Linked DNA regions of Homo sapiens. The protein of the gene in region 5 purifies or fractionates together with the protein of the main gene of each other region. This does not show direct contact. Each region holds a gene or a part of one and is shown on either strand. Other genes may lie near its edges. The genes, in order: PIGO, SPPL2B, EVI5L, SIDT2, PTH1R, DNAJC17 and SOAT1.

Region 1 (2,702 bases), on a different chromosome or scaffold from region 5:
ACACAATTTTGGCTTCAAGTCAGGAATAATGAATGGGACAAGGTGGAATGCTACATAAGATGGGCATGTAGATCTGATAAAGAGTGGCACAGGTTGGGAAACAAGGGAGGCTTCCACAGAAGGGAAGGGCAAAGGGTGTTCTATAGTGAAAAGGCCCAGTGGAGCGGGGGCATAGCACTATTTGGGGCTTCAGACAGTTAAAGTCGGTGCTGCATGATGCCTGGGCTTGTCTTCTCAGTCTTCTCTCTTTATCAGACAAAGAACAGGAACTTAACAAAATGTGTTGCATGGCAAAGGAAAATAGCGGTGGGATAATAGGATTGATTTGGGAAGAGGTGGAGGCAGTGAATTCAGACAACTCCAACCACTTCATAAAGGTTCTCAGGTGCAGCCAGGCTTTCCTAAGATGACTGATCTCATCTGTGCCTGGTGGCAGGAGAGACTGATCCTCCTCACAACCCCTATAGAACAGTGGGGCTCCCCCACATCTCAGACACACATAATTATATTATCATTTTATTACACTTTTTTTTAAATAGTAGAGACGGGGTCTTGTTATGTTCCACAGGCTGGTCTTGAACTCCTGGGACCAAGCAATCCTCCCACCTCTGCCTCCCAAAGTGCTGGGATTATAGGTGCAAGTCACCACGCCCGGCCTATTTTATTCCACTTCGGAGACCGCCCCCCTTGTCCCTCAGATGCATCCAAATCAGGAGTTAGGGATCATACTCCACTGTGGTCCTGAATTATAGAATAATGAAGTCCTAGATGTCAGCGGCCCCTGGCTGCATGATAGTAAGAGTATGGCTGAGCCTGTCTTGCAGATCATCCAGTACCTGTACAGGCCAGGCTACACTGTTCTCAAGCACTCTCTGTAGCCAAGTGCCAGTAATCACAGACTAGGCTACCTCTGCTGGGCCAGAAATAGCTGCCTGAACCAGGAGCTCACAGCACCATCCACTCTCATCACCAAAGCTATGCCCAGGAGAAGTCCCACGCTGCTCACAATGAAGCCCACAGCCTCAAATATGAACCTGCAAAGAAAGGCGGAGAATCTCAGGCAACAGAGTAGGTCTACTGCCTTTTCCCTGTAGAGGCAAAACCTTGGCCATCCTGGATGTTTAGGATCTTCATACTTTGTTCCAAGTTTCTCCCTCCCCACCACCTCTACTTCTCAAGCAAATCTACTCACTTAGGGGCAAACACTTTCCAGACCATGAGATGCCTGCGAAGGATGGAGGCTGCCAAGGCACAGGCCAGAATCTAGAGGAGGAGAGGAGGGGCCACGTTACTTGTGAAGGAGAGGAGGAAGCGGAGCAAAAGGAGAGTTTCTATAGGCCCCTGTAAAAAATGGAAGCAGGAGAATAGTGCATGTCAGTGGAAAAAATATTGCATGTCCTGGGCTAGGAGTTAGGAGACCTACTTCCTGCCCTGCCCCAAGCACTGACTCACTATGTGACTTTGGGCAAGTCAGTATCCATCTGCAATGCTAACACTCAGGCTGTGCCCCCAGGATGGAGGAAGATATCAGTGCCACATCTGCCTCTGGAGGAAAGGAAGAGGATCCATGACCACAGTTTGGGAAGAAAATCCTGGCTATCACCTCAGTTTTTCCAGTCTGTCCACTGATAGAGTAATCCTCAAATGCAACTAGCGGGGTCCAGATCTAGGTTGTAGAGGGGAAATGATCCAGGACTAGGATTAAGGAGACCCAGGTTCAAGTCTCAGAACTGCCATTTGAGGCCACTGGGCTTGGGCAACCACTTCACTTATGTGAAACTCAGTCAAGGCTCTCTCCCACGGTTTTGAAGGTCTGAAAGAAAGTGATGCACACACAGAGAAAAAACACCAACTCCCTGATCTCTCTCCTACACCCACCTGAATACCAAGGATAAAGAGGTACTTGAGGCCCAGCTGCAGCAGTGCTGCATAGAAGTGCTGAGGCGCATCCCGGAGCCGCATCTCCATCAGTGGCTCCTCTTCCTCCTCGGGTCTGACTCTGGCATCAGCTTCATTCCCTGGGGGCTGCTGTCTCTTCCGCAGCCCTTGACTCTCACACAGGAAAGGCCAGAGCAGGAGCAGTGGGCAACCTACTGCCTCAAGAGAGGGTATGGCTGGAATCAACAGGCCACCCTGGCTGGCTCAGGTTCCAATTAGCCTAGGCCAAGGGGTGCCAAAGATCCAACAAACCCATATCTCTCCATTCAAATCCAGGGGTTTCCTTTCTTTCCACAAAGCCAGAGTAAACAATGGAAGCAAGTGAAGGAGGAGGGGGTACCTGCAAAGAGGAGGTGGGAGGCAAAGGTGTTGGCTCCCACTAGCAAAGCAGGCAGCCAAGTACAGGAGCCATGACCCTCTGGGAATCCCACGAAGGCTGCATGCCAATGGATGGCTGGAAAGACAGGCTGGTGGCCTGTGGAGTAGAAGGTCTGTGTGGCCATGAGGGCCCAAGCCGAGACTGCCTGCCATGGCACAGTAAAAGGACCTGGAAGAAAAGATATGCCACGTTACAGTCACTTCTTATTCCCTAATCCATAGGCTACTGCTCCACAATCATATACTCCTACTACTTCAGTATCAATTCTCATACACACTCAAATGCCTATCAGCCCAACCTCCTTACAGTCAACATTCTGTTATTCTAATTCTCTCTGTGGTACAAAAGCGCCATCAGGCTTATCTGAATCCTGCTATGGCCAATC
Region 2 (3,500 bases), on a different chromosome or scaffold from region 5:
ATTCGCCTCCTCTCCTGGGACCCTCACTCGAGGCTCGGGTCAGGCTGGGGGCGCCTGCTGGCTCCCCCTCTGCAGCTGACAGCCTCCGGCCCCCCAGGAGGACCCAAGAACAGGGAGGCCGAAGGGCATCAAGCCTTCTTCACCTGACAACAGGGCCCCAGGCCTAAAAGCGCCACTAATCCCTCCCTCGGCCGTGGGACTCCCGAACCGCACATACAAGTCCTGAGTGATACTTGTCACAGCCCATGCCTGCCCACTAAGCCGCCTTGAGCCCCGCACCCACTGAGGGCCTCTCTCAACTACGACGGCAGCGTGTGCGGACAGGGATGGCACTCTCGGCTCTGCCCGGCCTGCTCTGCCCTCGGCCCTGAGCCCCTGCACCAGGCCTCCGTGGATTGCCAGGCTCAGGGTGCAACACTGGCGGGGGCAGCCCAGAGCCACAGGCAGAGCTGTGAGGGAATTCCTGAACTCCATTCCTTCTTACTCCAAAACTACACTTCAGGGGCGGCCACGCACCCTGCCCAGCCCAGCAGTCGGCATGTCCCTGTGCTGTGACCAGCCCTGCCAGGCCCCCAGCTCTCAACCACAGCCCCATTTCACAGAAGATGGAAAAGGGGCCAGGCTTCAGGCCACCTGGCTAGGACCACAGGCGAGCACGGCCCCACCGGCTAGAGGGCAAGGGCACCAGGGTACCCAGAAAGGACCAGCTCAGGGCCAGGCCACCTGCTCCTCAGAAGCCACCCCAATCCCATCCCCACAGAGAGTGTGGTCTCCGTCACCCCTGGGGGCTGCTCTAGGACAGGCACCCAACAAGACCACGGCCAAAGTTCCACAGCCCCAGCCAGCAGCTCAGGAAGAACAGACTCATCTCCGCCCTCCCCACGGCCACACTCGGCCCGGATCCTCCCCATGTTCACACTCGGCCCAGATCCTCCCCACAGATGGATCTGCCTTTAGCGAGAAGTCGGAAGACCAGCCCCAGCTGCTGCCATCTCTGCCTCCTGCACCCCCCTCCTGCCCCTGAGAGCTGGCCCAGCGGGGGACGCACAGGGCCGTACCAGCCTCTCCCTGCTGACGATGAGCAGCCCGCGTGCTCCGCTGCCCTGGGCCAGCCTCACTTTCTCATAGAAGGTGCAGTTCCCCCGCGCCACCAGCGGGATCTGGTTGCTGAAGCCACGGGCGGGGAGGTCGGCTGCGGAGCAGAGCAGGGAGGCCGTCCAGTTGCGCAGCTGCAGGAAAGACTGGAAAGGCCAGGGCACAGTGTTGTCTCACGTGATGTGAGTCACCAGGAGGGCCCAGCTGCCCGTTCTCCCACCTGAAGCCTGCGCTGAGTTAGATCCCAGCCCTCACCTAAAGCCCCGCACGGCCTCGGCCCACCTAGGCAGAGCCATCCCTACTGCAGCTCCCACAGCCGGACCCTGGGCGACGGGCTGGGCTGCCTCATCTGAGCGGGGCCGGAGTCCTCACAGACATGGCTGTCCCCTGATACCTGAGCCACCCCGCGAGCCGTCACAGATCACTCAGCAAGACCAAGTGGGTCCCCACCGCAGCCCCACCACGGCCAGGCATCTGTGAGAAGGGGGAGGGTTTCCAGTGTGCAGAGAACAAAGCCCCAACTCTCAGGGGCCTCACAGCCCCTGAAGCCAAGACACACACGCACACACACACGCACACGCACACACACACCCACAGCCAGGCCGGAACACGCGCACACACAAGCACACGTCCACAGCCAGGCTGGAGCACACGGCACACACATGCATACATGCACACACACACACACACCCACAGCCAGACCAGTGCACACGCACACACCCACAGCCAGGCTGGAGTGCACACACACACACACGCACATAGCCGCAGCCAGGCCAGCGCGCACACACACACACACCCACAGCCAGGCTGGAGTGCATGCACACACACGTGCACACATACACAGCCAGGCCGGACCACATGGCACACATATGCACACGCAAGCACACACATGCACACTCACACTCAAGCAGACACATGCCTATTACACACATGCACACACACACGCACACACAGCCAGGCCAGAGCACACAGCACACGTGTGCATATACAAGCACATACCTGTGCACTCAAGCTCACGCACACACACCTATTACACACACATGCATACACACACGCCACATGAACTCACACACTCACACGCACATACCTATTACACATGCACTCACACACACTCATGCACACACACGAACCCAAACACACAGGCACATACACATCCACACACAAACCTATTATCCACATGTACACACACATACACACAGACCTATTACACATGTACACACGCACACATGTGCAGACACATGCACACATCCACAAACATAACTATTATGTAGCTACATGCTTACACACACCTGCACACATACAGACACACATGCACTCACACATCCATACACAAAACTATTGCATGCACACTCACAGGCACATGTGCACATAAAAACAGACATACACATTCAGACCCATGCACATGCCCCCACACACCTATTACACACATGCTCACACACACAGGTGTGCTGACACACAAACACGCACTAAGGCACACATGTCCATGCACATATCTAGTACACATGTGCTCACACACACAAACTCAGAAATATGCACTCAGGCACATGTCTTCACACATACCTATTACATGTGTTCACATACCTATTACATGTGTTGACACACACCTATGTGTTCACACACAAAAAAACACTCAGGCACATGCACACATACACTGATGCAAACTCACATAAACATGCAGACACATGAGCATGTCCAGGCACATACTGATTACACACGTGCTCACACGCACACACTATGCATAAAGCTGACAGGAAGATGCTAGTGCCTCTTCGCCGGCACACCTCGAGGGCTCCAGGAGGGGGCGGGACACAGTGGGAAAGGAGGCGGGGCCTGAGGGACTCAGTGGGAAAGGAGGCGGGGCCTGAGGGATGCGGTGGGAAAGGAGAGAGGGCCTGAGGGATACGGTGGGAAAGGAGGCAGGGCCTGAGGGATGGGGTGGGAAAGGAGGCGGGGCCTGAAGGATGCAGTGGGAAAGGAGGCAGGGACAGAGGGGTGTGGTGGGAAAGGAGGCGGGGCCAGAGGGATGCAGTGGAAAAGGAGGCAGGGCCTGAGGGATGAAGTGAGAAAGGAGGCGGGGCCTGAGGGATGCAGTGGGAAAGGAGGCGGGGCCTGAAGGATGCAATGAGAAAGGAGGCGGGGCCTGAAGCATGCAGTGGGAAAGGAGGCGGGGCCTGAAGCATGCAGTGGGAAAGAAGGCGGGGCCTGAAGGATGCAGTGAGAAAGGAGGCGGGGCCTGAAGGATGCAGTGGGAAATGAGGCGGGGCCTGAAGGATGCAGTGGGAAAGGAGGCGGGGCCTGAAGGATGCAGTGGGAAAGGAGGCGGGGCCTGAAGGATGCAGTGGGAAAGGAGGCGGGGCCTGAAGGATGCAGTGGAAAGGAGGCGGGGCCTGAGGGATGCGGTGGGA
Region 3 (4,259 bases), on a different chromosome or scaffold from region 5:
TGCCTCCTGTTGGTCTGATCTTTATGCTTTTACCCCTCGAAGAGGCCCTGACACCACCTCCCCCAGGAAGCCTTCCCTGATCTCCCTGCACATTTGTCTATTGAGCACCTACCACATTAGTGCAGGCTTCCCCCTGCCCAGTGCCTGTCTCCTCTGCTCCACTGGAGACCCCCTCAGAGCCAGGCACAGGGCAGAGTACCCCACATTACCCCTGGAGGCGTGAGCAGAATGAATGCAACCGGGTCCTGTGCTTCCTGAAGCCCAGCGATTCGGCATGCCTCTCTCCTTCAGGGGAGGCCCAAGTTGATTCACCCAGGTGGGAAATCATGCCCTGCCCCCAAACTGAATGCCCTTCTATCCTCTCCCACCCCCATTCTATGAGACTGTGGGGAGCTCCTAAGGGCAAGGACAGCCCCACCTTCCCTCAGCACGGTTTTTGGTCCCTGGGCTGGGCACCCACCGCTGCTTGTGATTCTCCTCCCAGCCCGCAGGCCAGTCCGTGACTGTGTAAATACACTTTATTTTCCATTTTTCCCGCCTGGGCGACATGTGAACAGGCAGTGTGCAAAATGGTGGCGGGCAGTGTAGGGGGCGTGTGGAGAGCCCCGTGGGTGCCTGCCCCGGTCCCCAGGCTTCGTAACACTGAAAAGTGGGCAGCTAGGAAGCGGGGACGGAGCAGGGGTCCCCACCCAGGAAGCGCCAGGGAGATTGCTTGTGACGCTACTCTACTGGAGGCTCCGGGAGCACCGAGGGGGGCAGCCCCCAGGGTCATGAGGCCCGGGGGGCCGGGGGAAGGGAGGAAGGGGCCTGGGGGGCATCGTTGGATTTTGGCACCGTTCTCAGCTCTGATTCAGCAGAGACAACGGGACCACCAGGAGGAAGTGAGGGGAGGCCGCTCGCTGGGAAGCTCCTGCCTGGGGGCCTGGCTCTGGCTGAGGGTGGGGCTGGAAACACATGAAGAAAGGGAAGTAGATGGAGACCGAGGACCCCTGTAGAGATACCCCTCCATCACTGGCCAGGATAGGGGGCGCGAGTGTCTCCCAGAGAAAGATGTGGGGCACTGGGGAGAGGGGTCTCTTCACTTCCTGGAAGCTGCTCTGGCCCCAGAGAAGCAGGGAGGCTTCCCGTTAGCCACTCAGTCCCCAGGCGCCCCGCACATAGTAGGGGGACTTTGGTTTCCGCTGCAGGGGCCACGGTGCCTGCGCCAGGCAGGAGAGGCCGGCCTGGCCATCTGTCCCCAGCGGCCTGACTCCCCTAGAGATGGCCAGGGGCTAGTCAAGGGTCACTTCATCCCGAGGAGTGTTGTGGGGTGCTGATGTCCAGCCCAGAGCTGGCGCTCTCCTTCCTCAGGCCTCGGCTACCTCCTGAGCACTTCCCAGCAATGTCGCCCCTGTCCCAGAAGGAAGCCTGCCAGGAGGTGGGAGCTGCCTGCTCATTCAGTGCTGGGACCTCTGGGTCGTCTGTCCCCTGCCCTCTGCCCTCCTGTTAAGAGAGCAGTCAGCCCCTCCAGGCACCCCTGGAACGCCAGAGGGCCCGGAGGGGTACAGACCAAGATGGGTAAACACTGCTGGGGATAGAGAGCCTGCCCCGGGGCCCTGAGGAGCCCAGGTCGGACCCTACCCTCTGCGCTGCCTCGCCGGGCCTCGCTTTAGGGGTGGCCGAGCCACAGAGGGCGCGTAGTTTGTCAAGTGCGGCAGGTGGGGAGCAGAACGCGGACTGCCCGGGCGCCCCCCGCGGCTGCGGCCTCCTGACTCCGGGCGCGCTGGGCATGGCCTCAGTTGTCCAGACCCTGGCTGTAGGGCGCGGCCAGCTCATCGGCGTCGCTGTCTGAGCTGCCCTCGCTGTCCTTGGCCGGCCGCTCCAGACGGCGGAAGAAGCGCGCATCGCGCGGGGACAGAGGGTACAATGCGTCCTGCAGGGCAGCGCCCACGCCTACGCCAAGTAGCTCCTCGTCCGACGACGGCAGCGAGTCCTCGTCCAAGTGCCGCGCCAGGCTCAGCCCATCGAAAGCCAGCGGGTCCTCGAAGGGCGGCGGGCCCTTCAGCAGCCGCACCTGGGGCGGGGGACCGGCGCTGCAGGCGTGGACCGGCCTTCTGCCCCGCCCTCCCAGCCGCATCCTCCGCAAGGCACCTGCGCTCGGCTCGTCCCAGGCCGACGACACCCAGGCCTGTCCCCGGCATCCCCGCGCCGGCTCACCTCGGCCTTCAGCTCCTCGATCTGGTCCTTGAGCTCGCGGATGTACTGCGATGAGTCCGAGTGGTTCAGCTGGCCCTGGATGCGGCCTTCCTCCCTCTGCGGGGTGCGCCAGGTCACGCGGGGCCAGTGCCATGCTGGGCCTGGGGTCCGGCCCCGCTCCTGCCCCGGGCCCTGCCCCCGCCCCCGCCCCCCGACCCCGGCCCCGCCGATCACCTGGATCTCCAGCTCGGCAATGCGCTGCCGCATCTCGGCCACCGCAGCCATGCTGTCCGCCTCCCGCAGTCGCACAGCCATCACCTCCTCCTTGCTCTGGGGTCGGGGGATTGGGGGGAAAGGAGGGCGGGTCAGGGGGCGCGGCGCATCAGGGGGCGGGACCGCGGGCAGGGGCGAATGAGGAGGCGGGGCCGCGGGCGGAGGCGGGTCAGGAGGCAGGACCGCGGGCAGGGGCGGGACCGCGGGCAAGGGAGGTGCGGGCGGGGGCGGGTCAGGAGGCGTGGCCGCGGGCGGGGGCGGATCAGGAGGCGGGACCGCGGGGGGGGGTGGTCAGGAGGCGGGGCCGGATCAGGAGGCGGGGTCGCGGGCAGGAGCAGGTCAGGAGGCGGGGCCGCGGGCGGGGGCGGGAGGACCGCGGGCAGGGGCAGATCGGGAGGCAGGACGCCGGCAGAGGCGGATTGGGGGCGGGGCCTCATGTAGGGGCGCGTCCGGGGGCGGTGCCACGGGCAGGGCGGGGCCGCGGGGGTCTGCACCTTGCACTCGGCCTCGGCCTGCTTGCGGCGGCTTTCGCTGAGCTGCGTCTGCAGCCCCTTGTTCTGTGCAGCCAGGTACTGCAGCTTCTCCTGCAGCGCCGCGCGCTCCGCCTCCACGCGGTTCAGAAGGTTGCGGTGGATGTGGTCCTGGGATAGGGAGGAAGGGAGGACGGAGGACGGCGGCGGTCAGGGCCTAACTCAGGGGCTGGCCACGGACACCACGCCCCTTCCCCAACGAGCAGGCCCCCCGAGTCCACCTGCGTCTCAAGTTCCACCACGCGCTGCCGCAGCTCGCGGCCCTCGGCCAGGGCCTGGGCCTCGCGCAGACGCACGCTCATCAGCTCGTCCTGCAGCTCGCCCACGACCAGCTTCCGTGGGGACTCCTTCCAGCGGCCGCCGCGGGCCAGATGGGCCTGGGGGGTGAAGCCGAGAAGCCGGCGGTCAGCCTCCGCCCAAGAACCCCGAGGGGATGGCCCTAGGGGGCGCTCTGCCCGCCGGCGCCCACCCGGCCCTCACCTGCCAGGTGTCCGAGAGCTCCTGCAGCTGCAGTTTAAGCTCTCGCGTCGAGGCCACCGCCTGGCCTTCCCGCACCTTGAGCGCCTTCAGCTCCTCCTGCAGCTGCGCCACATTGTTCTCGTCGGGCAGCGAGCTGTTCCTCTGCGGGAAGAGTGGGGTCAGGGCCTGGGGGAGCAGCGCAGCCGCATGGCCCTTCCTGCAGGACAAACGCCCCCAGCCACGTTTCCTCCTGAGCTCTGCCTTGGGCGGCTCAGATGGGGGAGGGCGACCCCCTTGACAAGGCCCACGGGGAGCGGACTCGCCTGTGGAACCCGGTTGGAGTTCCTCAGCTATAAAATGGGTGTAGTAACAGCACCTACTCTCACAGGGTGTCCTAGGGCAACCCCCATAAACGCCGCGCTGCACACACTGACTCCCCGAGGTCTGAGATCCATCCCCTCAGGGACATGATCAGGTGGAGGACCTGCCCCAGCAGAAACACCCTGTCTGCCCTCTGGCCCCCAGGCCAGGCCACACCAGGCCAGGCAGTCCCTCTCCCTGGGAACAGGCTGAGTGCCAGCCTTGGCCCTGTCCTGGTGTCCCAGGGCTCATTGATGGAGGATTTGTGCTCCAGGACCCAAATCCAGCTTTCTGGATGAGGTCCGCACTGACCCGTGTTTGGGTCTAGGGCTGGGACAGATCTAGCAGCATGTCCTGGAGGCACACTTCCCTATGAAGTGGAGGGAGGCGGGAGCGGAGCCCAGCTCTTGGCTGGTGATGAGGGCCTGGAAGCAGATGGCCTCTCAGTCCTCCATTTGGGAG
Region 4 (4,092 bases), on a different chromosome or scaffold from region 5:
CTCACATCCCTCGCAGGATTAGGGGCACCTGGAAGGACACCACAGCCTCCTTCTGGCGGACCACAAACAGCAACGGCGCCCCCTTCTGCTTGTTCAGGACGTTCACAGACACACGCACGCCCTCTGTCTGCAGAACGACATGGAAATGCCTCTCAAGCCTCTGCCACCAGGGACACGTGGCTCCAGAGACTATGAGCCCTGCCCTCCTTCATGCCAGCTACTTTGGTCTTTCTCCATCTTGGTCGGGCCAGGGAGTCATCTCTGCCTCTTCTTCTGCCAGAACAACCCCCAGACTCCAGGAAAGACCTGTGCTGAGTGCAGCTCCTGGCCGGCAGACATGTGCAGGGCAGCAGGACCCAAGCAACCGCAGGGTCTCACCCTCTGCCAGGAAACACGGTGGAGGCCTTGCGAGTCTCCAGGATACCCCATTCCTATCCATGTGCACAGGATGCACAGGCCTGCACACACAAACGTGTACACACGCCCCCACACACGAAGACACAGGAGAACAAGAAGTGCTCCTCAACCTTCCTGTGAGCCAGGAAGCCAGCAGGAAGCTCTAGTTAACAGCTAACCTGGGGCCAGAGCCCAGAGGAGTTGAGGAGGGGTAGGTATTGAAGGCCATGTTGTATCCTTAGCTCCCACCAAGGGACAGGGCTGTGGAGAAGTCACTTTACTTCTCTAAGCCTCAACTTCTCCCTCTATAAAATGACAGCCGGGTGCGGTGACTCACGCTTGTAGCACTTTGGGAGGCCAAGGCAGGAGGATCATCTGAGGTCAGGAGTTTGAGACCAGCCTGGCCAACATGGTGAAGCCCCATCTCTACTAAAAATACAAAAATTAGCTGGGTATGGTGGCAGGCGCCTGTAATCTCAACTACTTGGGAGGCTGAGGCAGGAGAATCGCTTGAACCGGGAAGGCGGAGGTTGCAGTGAGCTGAGATCACAAAACTGCACTTCAGCCTGGGCAACAGAGTGAGACTGGTCTCAAAAAAAAAAAAAAAAAAAAAAAGATAAAGTGATCTTCACCCTTGGAGCTATGAAGGAACATATATAAACAATGGGAGCTTAAAGGAAAAATAAAACCAAATCGATCTTGGAATGCTTGTTATTGGGCTGCTGAAACCCAAGCCCTAGGGCAGCATTTCCCAAAAGAGTAAAAACCACAGCTCTCCAGTGCCTTTAGATATGGGAAAAAAGGAAGAAAGGACTCTAAGCAGAAAGAGATCAAACTTCAGAGAACCAGGCACTGGGGGCAGATCCTGGCCTGCCACAGAAACCAAACCACTCCCCGTTCTGAAAAAAAATCAGATTCCCCATTCTCAACTCCATTGCTTCTCAGTAAACGGCAGTCATGGAGAGAGAGCAAGAGACCCGGGCACGAGACCACACAGCCAGGTTGCAAGAATTCTCCCAATCTCAGCTCTGCCTGGGGTCTAGACTTCCCACACTAGCTGTGTCTATTTCAACTCAGGGACTCACAGCTGGTGAAGAAACCAAAGAGAAGTCAGGGTGAAGTGGATTTTTCACAGTGGACAAATTCCCCTTCTCTTCCCACCCAACTTGCAGTTGGCCTTATAAAACCTCTGTCACCCTCAATTTACAAGGCCAGCTGGCTCTCCCAGGCAGGAAGAGGGCTGGGAAGCCCTGCATTCATCTCCCTGGGGAGTCTGAGATGTAACTTGCCTGCACAGAGCTTTTCAGTTCTGGGCCAGTCTCATTCCCCTGAGGTTTTCTGGGCAAGCCCAGTAATAAGCCTGTTTCCTCTCCCACCGAGACCCCACAGAGCTGTCAGATTCTGGGGTTTAGGGTAGAGAGCAAGCCATGTGTGCTCAGACCACAACTGATGGAAGAATGGGGGCGGAAGAGAAGATGGGAATGAGCCAACTTCAAAAACTGCCCAGCTGGAGCTTCAGAGAAACATTGGTGGCAAAGGAAGGAGGACTGGTCAAGAGGCTCCAGTGTGGTTCTGGGAACTGGGAACCTAGCAGGACAGCTCGTTCCTGGGGCCTCCCAAAAGGGTAGCGGGGCGGCAGAATCGCCTAGCCCTCGTCGGCTTCCCCACTCGCCTCTGGCCCCTAAGCCCCCAGCCCTCACCCTGTTGCGGGTCACAGTATGGTTGAAGGTGTAGATGTTGACCAGCTCGCTGTTGACCTCGTCCACGTAGGTGCGCTCAAACTCGGCGTCTTTCTGCGAGACGTTCTTGGGCCCCAGAACCCCCAGATGGCTCTCGACCGAGGCCACCAAGAGCACCAAGAAGGGCAAGCCCAGAGCGAACATGGCCCCGGCAGGGCGGCAGTGGCAGCGGTGGTGGCGGCGGCGGCGGCGACAGGAGACAGGACACCTCCGGGACGGGTTGCGGCTGCGGCCGCAGCTTCCAGCATCTCACCAGGACCAGAACTTTAACCCCGGCCTGAGATTAGGAAATGTCCCCTCCCAAGAGCCCCGAAGAGGCTCCCAGGGTCCCCGCAGGGGAGGGGGCGGCCGGGAGGGGGCGGGGAGGGAGGGGATGCTGGCTACGGGAAGGGGTCCCAGCTCGCGAGGGGCTGAGTACGACCTGAGACCCTGGAGCCCCGGGCCAGGGCCGTGAGAAGGAGGGCGGCTGGTTGCCGGGAGCCTGGAGACGCCGGGAAAGGGGAGGGAGGAAGAGCCGGCGGCGGGGGCTGGCCGCGGAGGAAGGCGAGTCGCAGAGTGAGGGGCGTGATAGGTGGTAGCTACCCGACGCCGTGCTGGGCTGCGAGTTTTCCGAGGTGCGGGCCCTTTAAGGGCGGGCGGACGCGCCGTCCCGACGCACGAACACTGAAAAGTGAGCTGCGCCGCTGGGCGATAAACAGCAGGGCTGCTGGCCCGCCCGCTGACGTCAGGGGAAACTGACACAGATTTAAAGGACCAGGTCCCGCATTTGCCCTTAAAGGGGCTGCAGCTGTCTAGCTGAAGGGGAAAGCTTGCAATGCCTTCTCCAACTCCTACCCAACTCTCTCCCGTGATTTTCACCATCTCTGAAACTCACGTTGGAATAGGCAGATGTTTCTGTTAACAATCTCCAAGTGTTGGGTTCTTGCTGAACAACTCTTACATTTGCTCAAACATAAGGATTCCCCCACCCCCACCACCACCTTTACAACTAACATCGTCCAACCCTGGGCCACTTTTTCTCCGGGGATCTTAAAAAATGAAAAACTCGAAGGATTAGGAAACAGGACGGTGGCCCTACCGGCGGAGGGGAAACGGAGGCAGCACTGCAGGAGGAATCCCCATGCCTTTCCCACCTCCCTCTAGAGGGGCCACACAACTGCAGGGACGGCCTTCCGAGCTTTCCAAGCTTGCCGGGCTGTTTCCCCTCTTCTCTCAGAGACAGTTACAAAACTCATTGAAAGATACTGACCTTCAGTGTAAATTGGTGAAAACTTTTCTACAAAATATTTTGGCACTGTTTCAAGAAACTTAGAGAGCTTTATACCCTTTGATCCAGTAATTCCACTTCTGGACTCTATCCTAAGGAAATAGGAAGCACAGATAAAAATACCTGGGCAGCTACGCTTATCACTGTGATATTTATAATATAAAGCAAAAAGGAAATGACTTGGATATCCATAATGAGGGATTGGTTAAATGCACTATCATGAAGGCATCAAAAATGATGCTTAAGACTTCACAGGACACGTAAGCAGAGAATTCAGGATATGACACTAAATAAACAGTATATAGAGCCAGGTGCCGTGGCTCACACGTGTAATCCCAACACTTTGGGAGGCCAAGACAGGTAGATCACTTGAGGTCAGGAGTTCGAGACCAGCCATGGCCAACATGGTGAACCCCATCTCTACTATAAAAATACAAAATTAGTGGGGCGTGGTGACGCGTGCCTGTAATCCCAGCTACTGGGGAGGCTGAAGCAGGAGAATCGCTTAACTCTACCAGGCGGAGGTTGCAGTGAGCTGAGATCATGCTCCTGCACTCCAGCCTGGGCTGCAACAGAGCAAGACTCTGTCTCAAAAATAAATAAGTAAATAAAACCGTATATATTCCAAATGCATATAGACATGCATAGAAAAATAGAAAAAAATTGTACTAAACATTTAGCAATGTCTCC
Region 5 (3,500 bases):
GAGAGGGAAAGATATGTGCTTCCAGCACGCATGACTCCCACACTCCTTCATTCATCCATAGGGGTGGTGGCCCCACCTCTGGCCTCCCTGAACTTTAGGACCTATTTATCTGTTAGCACAGCCATTGCAACAAGAATAACTCATGTTAAAGTTAAGGAAGCACTTTCCCAAGAAGAGGAGGACAACCCCACACCAAGTGCGCTACCCCTCCAAACGTTAGCTCACAGCTCCGTGCCTGGAATGCCCCCACTCCTGTTCACTCCTCCCTCCAGCTGTGCCCTCCTCTTCAAGGAGATTCTGCCACCAGCCCCACAATGTGAATCCCACCTCCACCCTTGACTAGCTTCGTGTCTGAGAAAGTTGCTTAACCCGTGTGCCTCAGTTTTCCTGTAAAATCAGGGTAATAATAGGGCTGTTGTTGGCCCGGCACGGTGGCTAACACCAGTAATCCCAGCACTTTGGGAGGCCAAACCAGGTGGATCACCTGAGGTCAGGAGTTCGAGACCAGCCTGACCAACATGGAGAAACCTTGTCTCTACTGAAAAATACAAAATTAGCTGGGTGTGGTGGTGCGCCTGTAATCCCAGCTACTCGGGAGGCCGAGGCAGCAGAATCGCTCAAACCTGGGAGCGGAGGTTCCAGTGAGCCGAGATCGCGCCATTGCACTCTAGCCTGGGCAACAAGAGCGAAACTCCATCTCAAAAAAAAAAAAAAAAAAAAAAAAGCTGCTGTGAAGATTAAATGAAGTACTTCACAACAAGCCTGTGCAGGGGTGAAGCTCAGGAAAAGCTGGTTGCTATTGTTGATACTGTGAGCAGCAGCAGCAGCAGCAAGTCACATCCCCGCCATGTGCACCCCTGCTGCCTGGTGACATGGGTGCTCCCAGCCAGGCCAGGGACCCAAGGTGGCTGGGGGAGATTATCTGGGTAGATGGCTGAGTCCAGCAGGTGACAGTGAGGGGCAGATGGGAGATGGGGCCCCAGGGTGGACTGGGGGCAGGGACTACAGGAGGACCTGCTAGATAAGGTGTTCCTGGCAAGCTTTTGGGATGGAAGAGTATCCCAATGGCTCCTTGCATTTCTGGATCCACTCTGGACTTACATTAGGATTCAAGGTTACTGCCAGAGGCCCCAAGCTTGAGCTTAGGAGGAAAAAGGACCCCCTCCTCTGCCTCTGCCCTGACTGAGGAGGCCTTATCTCCTGGGGATGAAGGGGAAATGCTGACAGCTGTATCTCTTCTCAGCCTGGCATGCCCCCTGTCTGCTACTCCCTTCTCCCCGCCCCTCCAACCCTCTCTCCCTTGAGGAGTTCCTGTCTTCTTGGCTCAGCGCCAGGGTGCAGAGGACTCAGGCTTGCGTCCCCTTAGATCCAGCGGATCTGCAGATCTTGGGTCTCAGGGGTGAGGACTGAGGGACTGGGGCTGGGCTGTGGCCAGGGGTCACTTAGTCCATACCCACCACTTACAGGCCACCCAGCCCTGCACCAGCTGTCCCATATCCCCCCAACACTCCTCCTATGGTCCTGATTAGGGCTGACTTGACTCCCCCAACCCAGCCATCATGGTGCTTGGCTTCAATACCCTCCACTGTAGCACATCCTCCCCATGGTCAGCAAGGAGCTTTAAAACCCATGCCTCCTGCACCTTCTACCACATCCCCATTTTACAGACAGGGACACTGAGGCCAAGAGTCACAGAAAGAGGAGGGCCAGGGATGGAGCTAAGATCTGCTTGACACTGAAGCAGCAGCCTTGGAAGAAGGGAAAGAGAGGAGGAAGTGCCCAGCCACACGGGTACCCTGGCACCAGCCACGGTATCATCTTTCCATAATCCTGGATTTTAGCTGCTACATTAAGCAAGTCTCCCTTTGCAGATCCCCTAAGGCAGCCTCCCCGAAGCCGATTTAGGAGCAGAGGTGTGTAGACATAAAGGTGCCGGTGATGCCAGTGATGGCGGCTTGTCCCCAGCTGTAACTGGGTAGAGGACAGTTGGGCTCTGGTGTTGGGAACCAGGCCGTTGATGCCTCCAGCACAGCCAGAAGGAGAAAACCCTGGCTAACAGGAGACCCCTTCATGACCTCCTGGCCTTCCTACAGCCCTCCTCCAGGTTCTACTACTGGGACCCATGCTGGCACCCCTGGATGTCTCCCGTGCCAGCTGGCTGGGACTGCTCCCCCACCCCTGCTGCCCTCTCTCTGTCCGGCTGGCCTGAGCAGGCTCCTCGTCCTGCCCCGCCACCGCTGACAAGTGCTGACTTTTCCTCCCCTTCGCCAGGCTTTCCTGAACAGGCTGCCTGTGTTTGGGGCTGGGAGGGGCTGGGGGGGAAGAGGCACTGTGACGCCTCTCATCCTGGCCAGCCAGCGTGGCCGCCTTCGGGGCAGGCAGTGGGATGCAGCCTGGGATAGCGGAGTTGGCTGCTACGACCTGGTGGATCTTCATAAGCAGGCCCTACTTGGGTTGAGGAATCAAGGCCCAGAAGAACAGTATGGCCTAATCTAAGCCATCGCCTGCTCAGCAGAATGGGATCCCACTAGGTCTCACCTCGGGCATAAGACTGGCCCCAGAGTTGGGGCTTTTAAGGGTTTGAAGGTCTCTGATGTTTCTGCAAACCTGAGCAAAAGTTTGCGCCCTTCTCCCAATCACACCGTATTTTGCAGACAATTTCAGAGGTCTGCAAAACCCTCGCCCCACCTTTTCTTTTTCCTGAGGACTCTCCTTCTGAAATAGCTGCCTTCCTGATGTGGTGGCTGGACCAGGGAGTGTCCCCAGAAGGCCCACAACAGGAATCTGAGGGAGGCTACTTGACGCCTCATTAAAACATTCCGAAGAAAACCCCAGTTCCTCGGAGGGCTCGGCACCCTCCTGCTGCTCTGTCCATAAGCCGTTTCAAGAGCTGAGGTGAATGTGTTTAAGAGCAGGTGATATAAAAAGCTTCAACAAATCAATACGAAAAAGACAAATAACCCATAGAATGATGGTTAATGGCCCCGAGCAAGCTCTCACTGTAAAGCCCAGAAGTCACTGGTAATCAGCAAATTAAAATGACAAGAGACACCATTTTCACCTATCCAAGCAAAGGTGAAACACAAAGAATCCTCTTAACATCCTATGAGACAGTGGGTGTGGGCAGAGAGGCCCTCCTGGTTGGTCTTGGTGTTGTATAAGTACAAAGCAGCACAAGCTTTTTAGAGGGCAATTTGGCCATGCTATTAAAATAAAAAATATGTATATTCTCAGGCCCAGCAATGACAAAATCTAGAAATATCCTACTAGGAAATAGTCACATGGGGACACTAGAGGGCATTTCAAGGAGCTTCCCTGCCACCATCTGGAATCACGCACATATAGACACACACACAAATTATGCAGAAATGATCTAAATGTACATTCCTATGGACTACTTAATGAGTCCCAGGTTTTGGAATACTATGCAGCATTTAAAAATATAGATTCATATTTACTGAAATGAAGATCTCTAAGACACACATTTACGTCAAAATATG
Region 6 (3,500 bases), on a different chromosome or scaffold from region 5:
CTTGGAGCCACCCTTGGCGGGCCCCCAGCCCAACCCTGGGCAGCAGAGCCCGCCCATCACAGGCATGGCGCTGCTCCCCATTAACACACCCTCTGCCCCCCTTCCTGTTCCTGCTCGTGAGGGCCTGACAGCGGGGCTGAGTCACCCATACCAGCTACAGGTCTCTTCCTTCCCCAACAATCGTTCCACACGCCTGCCTTTCAATTAACTCCCACCCGCCCCGAACTCTTCCTACCCAGACACTGTGGGCAGGGAGCCAGGCGCACCTGCTGGGGGCCCAGGGTGGTGGGGCTGTGATCAGAAAGGAAGCCGCGTGGTGACACATAAAGCAGGGCTGCCCCCACACGAGTCCCCAGAGGAATCTTAAGCTCCCCATTGCCCTGGGGTGTTGGTCCCAGCTGCCCCATCCCTGCACGCGGATGCTGCAATTACCCAAGAGCACGAAACCTGGCTTCCCACCTGACTGAGTCAGCTGAGAACAAAAACACATCTCCACCGCCACAAACAGCCAGGCCACTCATCAGAGTCCGGGAGCCACTGGCAGAGAGGGCACGGCCCCACACTGCCCCAGAGACATATAGGAGCCAGGCAAACACCAGGGCGAGTGAGCTCGGGCCATCTGCTGCCTGCCTGTGGAAGGAGCGCTCGCCAGCCTCACCCAGCCCGAGAAGGTCCACCTCTGCCTCCGCCGGAGCTGCCCTCATTCTGGCTCCAGTAAGTGCTGCTTCTTCCTCCTGGGTTTTTTTCCACTACCCTATTCAGTAACCAGGCCACTCCTGTCCCTGTGGGAAACTCTTGCTGCCAGGAACTCCCAGCTGTCTGCTCTCCTGGGCAAAAAAGTTCCTTCTTCCTGAGCCCTCCTCTCACCATCCAAGATGTGGTCAAAGGTCTGTGCTGAGTGGAAACCCTGAGGCCTCTGCTCCTAGGGGAGCCTCCCCAGCTGCTGGCACTCACTGCCCCAGCAGGGACCACATGCACCCTGGCTGCTCCTGAACACCTGTCTGCTGGCTCCCCTGGGCCCCATGGAGACCTGGCGGAAAGGCTCCTTCCGCAACGCCTCCTTCTTCAAGCAGCTGAGCCTGGGGCGGCCACGGCGGCTCCGGCGACAGAGTAGTGTGCTTAGCCAGGCCAGCACAGCAGGTGGGGACCACGAGGAGTACAGCAACCGAGAAGTCATCCGGGAGCTACAAGGGAGGCCAGATGGCCGGCGCCTGCCACTGTGGGGGGACGAGCAGCCCCGGGCCACCCTGCTGGCCCCACCCAAGCCCCCACGCCTCTACCGAGAGAGCTCAAGCTGCCCCAACATCCTGGAGCCCCCACCTGCCTACACAGCAGCCTACTCTGCCACCCTGCCATCGGCGCTCTCTCTGTCGAGTGCCCTCCACCAGCACTCAGAGAAGGGCCTTGTGGACACTCCCTGCTTCCAGAGGACACCTACCCCAGACCTCAGTGATCCCTTCCTCTCCTTCAAAGTGGACCTGGGGATTTCACTTCTTGAGGAAGTTCTGCAGATGCTAAGGGAGCAGTTTCCTAGCGAGCCCAGCTTCTAAATGGGGTGAGGGTGGGCAAAGCCGGGGTGACTGGAAGATCCAGAGGCTGGGGATTAAGGAAAGGACAGGGACAGGACTCCAGGCCCATCGCTGGAGGGTTCAGGCAGGCAGAGCTTCTTCATCCTGGGGGAGGATTCCAGGATAGGAATCCAGGGCTCTGCCTGCTCTCTGGGTCCTGGACAGTCCTTCCAGGCACCCCAGAGTGGAGGGACAGAGGCAATCTGGAAATGTTGGGGGGGCGGCCCTTCCTGGCAGGACCCTGAAGAAAGCTGGCTATGCCGGGAAAGGGAGGCTGTGCCGGGAAAGGGAGGCTCTGTGCGGCACTACAGGAACCAGGTAGAGGCTGGCAGAGCCAGAAGGTGGCACGGGGTCAGATCAGGGAGTGGGAGGACACAGACTGAGCAGAAGAGATGAGTGCCCCATGCCAGCCTCTTTGGAAGCCACTGTCAACAGAGAGAGGTCACAGGACAAGCTTGGGTAAAGGCAGTCCAACCCAGGCAGAAGAGGAAAGTGGGAAGGCCCAGGAAGAAAGGGGAGAAGGCCTGACCCTGTCTAATCTGGTGGCCACTCACTGCATGACACTGAATTGAAATAAATAAAATTAACAGTTCAGTTCCTCAGCTGCACCGTTATTCCAGATTCCACATTCCAAATGCCCGGTGGCCACACATGATTAATGGCTACCACACTGGTCAGTGCAGAATGGACGTAAACATCGCTGCACAAAGTTCTAATGGACAGCGCTGTCTAGACCATGGCCTGGAGCCACCAGCAAAGGGGAGGCGCATACAGGGGCTGGCCACATAGGAAGAGATAGGTAGAGATAGAGTATAACTCAGGAAAAAGACCAGGCAAATCCTTAGCAGAAATGAGGACGTGGCTCAGTCTGCCAACACAGCTACCCGGAGCAATCCCTGGTGAAGGAAGGCAGCTCTAGAGAATGCCAGCCACAGGCACGCGCACGGCTTGCAAAGGGGTACTTTGGGGAATTCCCAGAATTACTAGTGATGGGAGCCCTGGCAGGTTTCCTTCCTCGAAGAGAGGAGAACTGGATCCAGGGATGGGCATTCAACAGCGAAGCGGCACAGCTGGTTTCCAGAACCGTCTCCCGGGATTAGACAGTTCTGCCGCCTGAACCCTCCGACGATGGGCCTGCCAACCAGGCCAAGCCCACTGGGTCAAAGCCACAGGCTGTGCTACGGCCCCACCCCATGGCCTCACCAGAACACAGAAACCAGAGCCCAGCAGCACTGGCTGGGCCATGTGTTGGTGGCCCCCCGGGACTCGCTAAGAGTAGCAAAGGGGAGAGGGAAGCTCTGACACACACCATTTCTACGACCTAAATCAGTGGCCTCCCTCTTTCCTCCTCTTGTGTATAGGTACCGAGCTGTGGATACAGGAGAGAATGAATAAAATTCTAACACAATCTATGGAGTGTTATCTGGGGCTGTGAAATGCTGGGACTTGAAGGTGGGAATGAGGTCTCTAAAGCAGGGCCCTGAGTCAGGCCCAGGCCAGTTTGTTTCCCTCCATCCAGGATCTGGGACACACTTGCAGAAAGCTGCTTTCCAGTCACCCCAGTCAAGTGGAGGGGCAGGCAACGGAGCAGGCTGGCGTGGGTAAAGTAATGAGAGCAGCCTCCTGCCAGCCTGCTGAGGGGCTGTGGACACACCAGACAGGCCCTGGGCCACTGCAGAGAAGGGAAGAACCAGGTTGCTAGATCTTGCCCCCAAAGCAATCTGTTCCACCAAGGTGGGGACAGGTGTGGCCAGGAGCCCCACAGCCCTAGCCTTTGTATCCAGGCCAAAAGACACCAGGGCCATGGTTGCAGGTTGGGGGTTACACACAAGCTGGAAGGTCTACGCTTCACCCAGGCAGGGCACCCAGACTCTGGGCAGGCACCACCCCGTGTCAGCAGGGTAGCCAGAGTTCCTTCTTTTTTTTTTTTTT
Region 7 (3,500 bases), on a different chromosome or scaffold from region 5:
GTTTTCAGTTCTTACTTCTCTCATCATTTCTGATGAAGAGATAGATGCTCTTGTGGCTTCCTCTGTCACTTTTACACAGAATTGGACCATTGTAAGTTGGGCATCGTCTTGTGATTTATTAGCCCTGACTTTTCCCTTAAGTTCCTCTTAATTAGATCTTATGATATCATAACATTTCTACTTGATATATTCATCTGCTGTTCCACAATTGTTTCATTTGTTTGATTTCAGAAATAATTAGAAGAAAGCCGATCTAGATTTGTCAGATTTTTACTTTGCCAAGCTGTGATAGTTGAAAAACAACCAAACCCACCATGTACTATATTTCATCCTTTTATACAGAAAAGGATATTTTAGTACAAAAATTAAGAAAAACTGTAGTCTCAGAATTTAAATATATATAGCTTTAAAATAATGTAATGAGTATTTCACAGTTGTTTTCTTCTTGCTTTAGACTCTTGAAAACTTTATCACATAGTGAAACACTGCTTTACTTTTTATTTAAAATTGTTTTTTTGGCCGGGTGCGGTGGCTCATGCCTGTAATCCCAGCACTTTGGGAGGCTGAGGCGGGCGGATAACTTGAGGTCAGAAGTTCGAGACCAGCGTGACCAACATGGTGAAACCCTGTCTCTACTAAAATACAAAAATTAGCCACGTGTGGTGGCAGTCACCTGTAATCTCAGCCACTCGGGAGGCTGAGGCAGGAGAATTGCCTGAACCCAGGAGGCGGAGGTTGCAGTGAGCCGAGATTGCACCATTGCACTCCCACCTGGGCAAAGCGATACTCCTTCTCAATAAATAAATAAATAAATAATTTTGAGATGTGGTCTTGCTATGTTTCCCATGCCAGACTCAAACTCCTGGGTTCAAGTCATCCTCCCGCCTGAGCCTCCCAAGTAGCTGGGACTACAGCTGTGTGCCACCATGCCCAACTAGGGAAACACATGGCTTTAGAGTAAACCTTGTACTATCTTGATATTGATCTTTGATCATGTTTTTTAGTGCTTAAAGTGTCTCACCACTGCCTTCCTGAAAAACTTCTAATTTCTTAGGCCTTTATAGTTTGACTCCTGTCCTCCTTTCTAGTCTTTTCCCTCATCACATTTCTCCATTACCAACTATTTTCCCCCAGTAGTTAGTGGTCTTTGTAGTTTGGATCCAACTAATGCCAGTTCCAATCGGGCTCTGTCGTTAGCTGTGTGGTCTTGGGCAAGTTACTGTAATGAGAAGAAAAGCAGACTCTAGTACCTGGGGCTGTGGTGTGCATTCCTATAAATTCAGCTTGTTCAACTGCAGGTGTATTCCTGGTACATGGGTGGAGGACACTGATAGTAACTACTTTAAATCATTGTTTTCTCATGTGAAAACTGAGGGTAATTTTTTTCAGAATTGTTATGAAGATTAAATGAGAAAACTTAAAGCATCTGGCAGGGTCCTTGCACTTAGTAGATACTTAACAAAAACTTGTTTTTGTCGTAGTTCAATTCCTTCATGGTTCCCTGAACGGGGCTTATAAGGTCCTTGTTTTAATCCTTTCTTGCACATGGAATGCACAGTTCTCATCCTTCAAGACTGTGTCTAAAATACCTTCTTTTCTGTGAAACCTTTACATCTTCTGCTAATCTCTGCTGTCTCTGAACTTAAGGTATTGTTTTTACCATTGACTTTGTTATTAAATCATACTCCACCCTGTGGCATCTTTGTAGTTACCTGTTACTATTTAATCCTTTTTTTTTTTTTTTTACATACTTAATGCTTTGTTCAACTAAATTGTTCTTTAAGAGTGGGGTCTATGTTTAAAAAGGGGCTTCAAAACCATTCCAATTATTTTATAGGACCTGATTTCTTCAGATTTGTTATCTTGAGTATCTTGTACCCAGAAAATGCTTTGAAATGATTAATGCAAAAGGAAGAGAATGTATCATCACATTTCACCTCTCCTAAATATAGTGGTATTGTGAAATTCACGTAAGCCAGATGCTTAGTTCAAAGCTGATATATTGGTTTGCTTCTGTGTCCCCACACAAATCTCATCTCTAACTGTAATCACCACGTGTCTAGGGAGGGAACTGGTGGGAGGTGATTGGATCATGGGGGCAGTTTCCCCCATGCTGTTCTCGTGATAGTGAGGGAGTTCTCATGAGAGCTGATGGTTTTAAATGTGGCACTTCCTTGCTCTGTCTCTCCTGCCGCCACGTAAGACATGCCTTGCCTCCCCTTGGTCTTCTGCCATGATTGTAAGTTTCCTGAGGCCTTTCCAGCCATGCGGAACTGTGAGACAGTTAAACCTCTTTCCTTTATAAATTACCCAGTCTCAGGTAGTGTATAGCAGTGTGAAAACGGACTAATACGAAAGCTTTTTACACCTTCTTTCCTAGACAATACAATGGTGGGTGAAGAGAAGATGTCTCTAAGAAACCGGCTGTCAAAGTCCAGGGAAAATCCTGAGGAAGATGAAGACCAGAGAAACCCTGCAAAGGAGTCCCTAGAGACACCTAGTAATGGTGAGGCTTAATTTTTTTTTTTTAGGTGAATTAGTGAAATAGAGAACAAATACAGTGTTATAGAATAAGTATTGCCATCTCTTTAATTCTTTATTGTAAATGGGTATTGATAGAGTTTTATATGTCTAGTAACAAAGCAATTAGACAATAAGTCCTTTCTCGTTAATTAATTTGGTGGTCATCTATTGGTATCTGCTGTGTTTTAGAGACCATTCATTCAGTCACGTAACCTACCAATAATTGCTGAGGTCCCCCGCTGGATGCTGGGGCTATAGCAGTGATCAGTACGGATTTGTTTGCCATTATGGAGCTCCAAGTTAAGTGAATGACAAAACCTCCAAAATCATACACATAACTAGATTTATCACAGTGTAATATTCTTGTAATTAACTACTTTCATAATAGATGTAATGAGTAAAATGTGAGTAATTAGCAGGGTGCCTAACCCAGTTCAATACTGAGCTATAAATCTTGGGAGAGGAGTAGTTAGGGAGTTTTATTAGTTCTTGTATCCACGTTTGCTTAATGCCTGACTACAAAGAGGAATACGATAGTCCTTTGTTGTTAAGGTCAAGGTTTATGATTATGAATGATAGACTTGTAAACACAACTCTAATTGATGTCATCTATTGCATCAGGGTATTAATTTTTGCAGTGACATTTGTAAAGGTTTGATTTCAACAAGGATTTGAAAATTGAGGATTGTTTAGTTAACAAATAGGTGCGGAACCTTCTGAGACAGGTTGTCTTTGGCATTTCATCTCTTTTCATAAAGAAACAGTTTTGTTTTTCCTACCTAAATTTAATTAAACTTAAATATCAACAGCTGGATCCCACCAGGAATGTAAACATTGCTGCTTGAGTTGGCATAATGAGGTTTATTGATAGGCTCTTAGTTAGCTATATATGACATATTTATATGGCATATGGGCTAGTTTTAGTGTGATATAAAATGTGAAATTTATGCAAAGGAGGATGAGCCAATACTGGGGAG

Evidence for each region.
Region 1: the proteins of PTH1R (region 5) and PIGO purify together in Homo sapiens (affinity purification with mass spectrometry; 2 studies listed by BioGRID and IntAct, with this or other methods). This does not show direct contact.
Region 2: the proteins of PTH1R (region 5) and SPPL2B purify together in Homo sapiens (affinity purification with mass spectrometry; 2 studies listed by BioGRID and IntAct, with this or other methods). This does not show direct contact.
Region 3: the proteins of PTH1R (region 5) and EVI5L purify together in Homo sapiens (affinity purification with mass spectrometry; 2 studies listed by BioGRID and IntAct, with this or other methods). This does not show direct contact.
Region 4: the proteins of PTH1R (region 5) and SIDT2 purify together in Homo sapiens (affinity purification with mass spectrometry; 2 studies listed by BioGRID and IntAct, with this or other methods). This does not show direct contact.
Region 6: the proteins of PTH1R (region 5) and DNAJC17 purify together in Homo sapiens (affinity purification with mass spectrometry; 2 studies listed by BioGRID and IntAct, with this or other methods). This does not show direct contact.
Region 7: the proteins of PTH1R (region 5) and SOAT1 purify together in Homo sapiens (affinity purification with mass spectrometry; 2 studies listed by BioGRID and IntAct, with this or other methods). This does not show direct contact.

Annotation. Positions count from the first base shown.
Region 1 is NC_000009.12:35,088,188-35,090,889, forward strand, and holds the end of PIGO (GPI ethanolamine phosphate transferase 3, catalytic subunit), read right to left. Parts: intron 2,486-2,702; coding exon 2,279-2,485; intron 2,098-2,278; coding exon of another isoform or gene 2,094-2,097; coding exon 1,879-2,093; intron 1,264-1,878; coding exon 1,193-1,263; intron 1,035-1,192; coding exon 905-1,034; 3' UTR 501-904; downstream 1-500.
Region 2 is NC_000019.10:2,335,184-2,338,683, reverse strand, and holds part of SPPL2B (signal peptide peptidase-like 2B isoform 2 precursor), read right to left. Parts: intron 1,242-3,500; coding exon 1,059-1,241; intron 1,053-1,058; exon of another isoform or gene 1-1,052. UniProt on the Homo sapiens protein: Intramembrane-cleaving aspartic protease (I-CLiP) that cleaves type II membrane signal peptides in the hydrophobic plane of the membrane. Functions in ITM2B and TNF processing.
Region 3 is NC_000019.10:7,861,218-7,865,476, reverse strand, and holds the end of EVI5L (EVI5-like protein), read right to left. Parts: intron 3,600-4,259; coding exon 3,459-3,599; intron 3,356-3,458; coding exon 3,200-3,355; intron 3,090-3,199; coding exon 2,943-3,089; intron 2,506-2,942; coding exon 2,410-2,505; intron 2,293-2,409; coding exon 2,197-2,292; intron 2,054-2,196; coding exon 1,775-2,053; 3' UTR 501-1,774; downstream 1-500. UniProt on the Homo sapiens protein: Functions as a GTPase-activating protein (GAP) with a broad specificity.
Region 4 is NC_000011.10:117,177,451-117,181,542, reverse strand, and holds the start of SIDT2 (SID1 transmembrane family member 2 precursor), read right to left. Parts: upstream 2,801-4,092; 5' UTR 2,280-2,800; coding exon 2,097-2,279; intron 128-2,096; coding exon 6-127; intron 1-5.
Region 5 is NC_000003.12:46,887,721-46,891,220, reverse strand, and holds part of PTH1R (parathyroid hormone/parathyroid hormone-related peptide receptor precursor), read right to left. Parts: intron 1-3,500.
Region 6 is NC_000015.10:40,769,474-40,772,973, forward strand, and holds part of DNAJC17 (dnaJ homolog subfamily C member 17), read right to left. Parts: intron 2,977-3,500; exon of another isoform or gene 1,551-2,976; coding exon of another isoform or gene 1,023-1,550; exon of another isoform or gene 507-1,022; intron 1-506. Other genes in the region: C15orf62 (uncharacterized protein C15orf62, mitochondrial precursor), read left to right, coding at 1,023-1,550. UniProt on the Homo sapiens protein: May negatively affect PAX8-induced thyroglobulin/TG transcription.
Region 7 is NC_000001.11:179,300,297-179,303,796, forward strand, and holds part of SOAT1 (sterol O-acyltransferase 1), read left to right. Parts: intron 1-2,380; 5' UTR 2,381-2,388; coding exon 2,389-2,506; intron 2,507-3,500.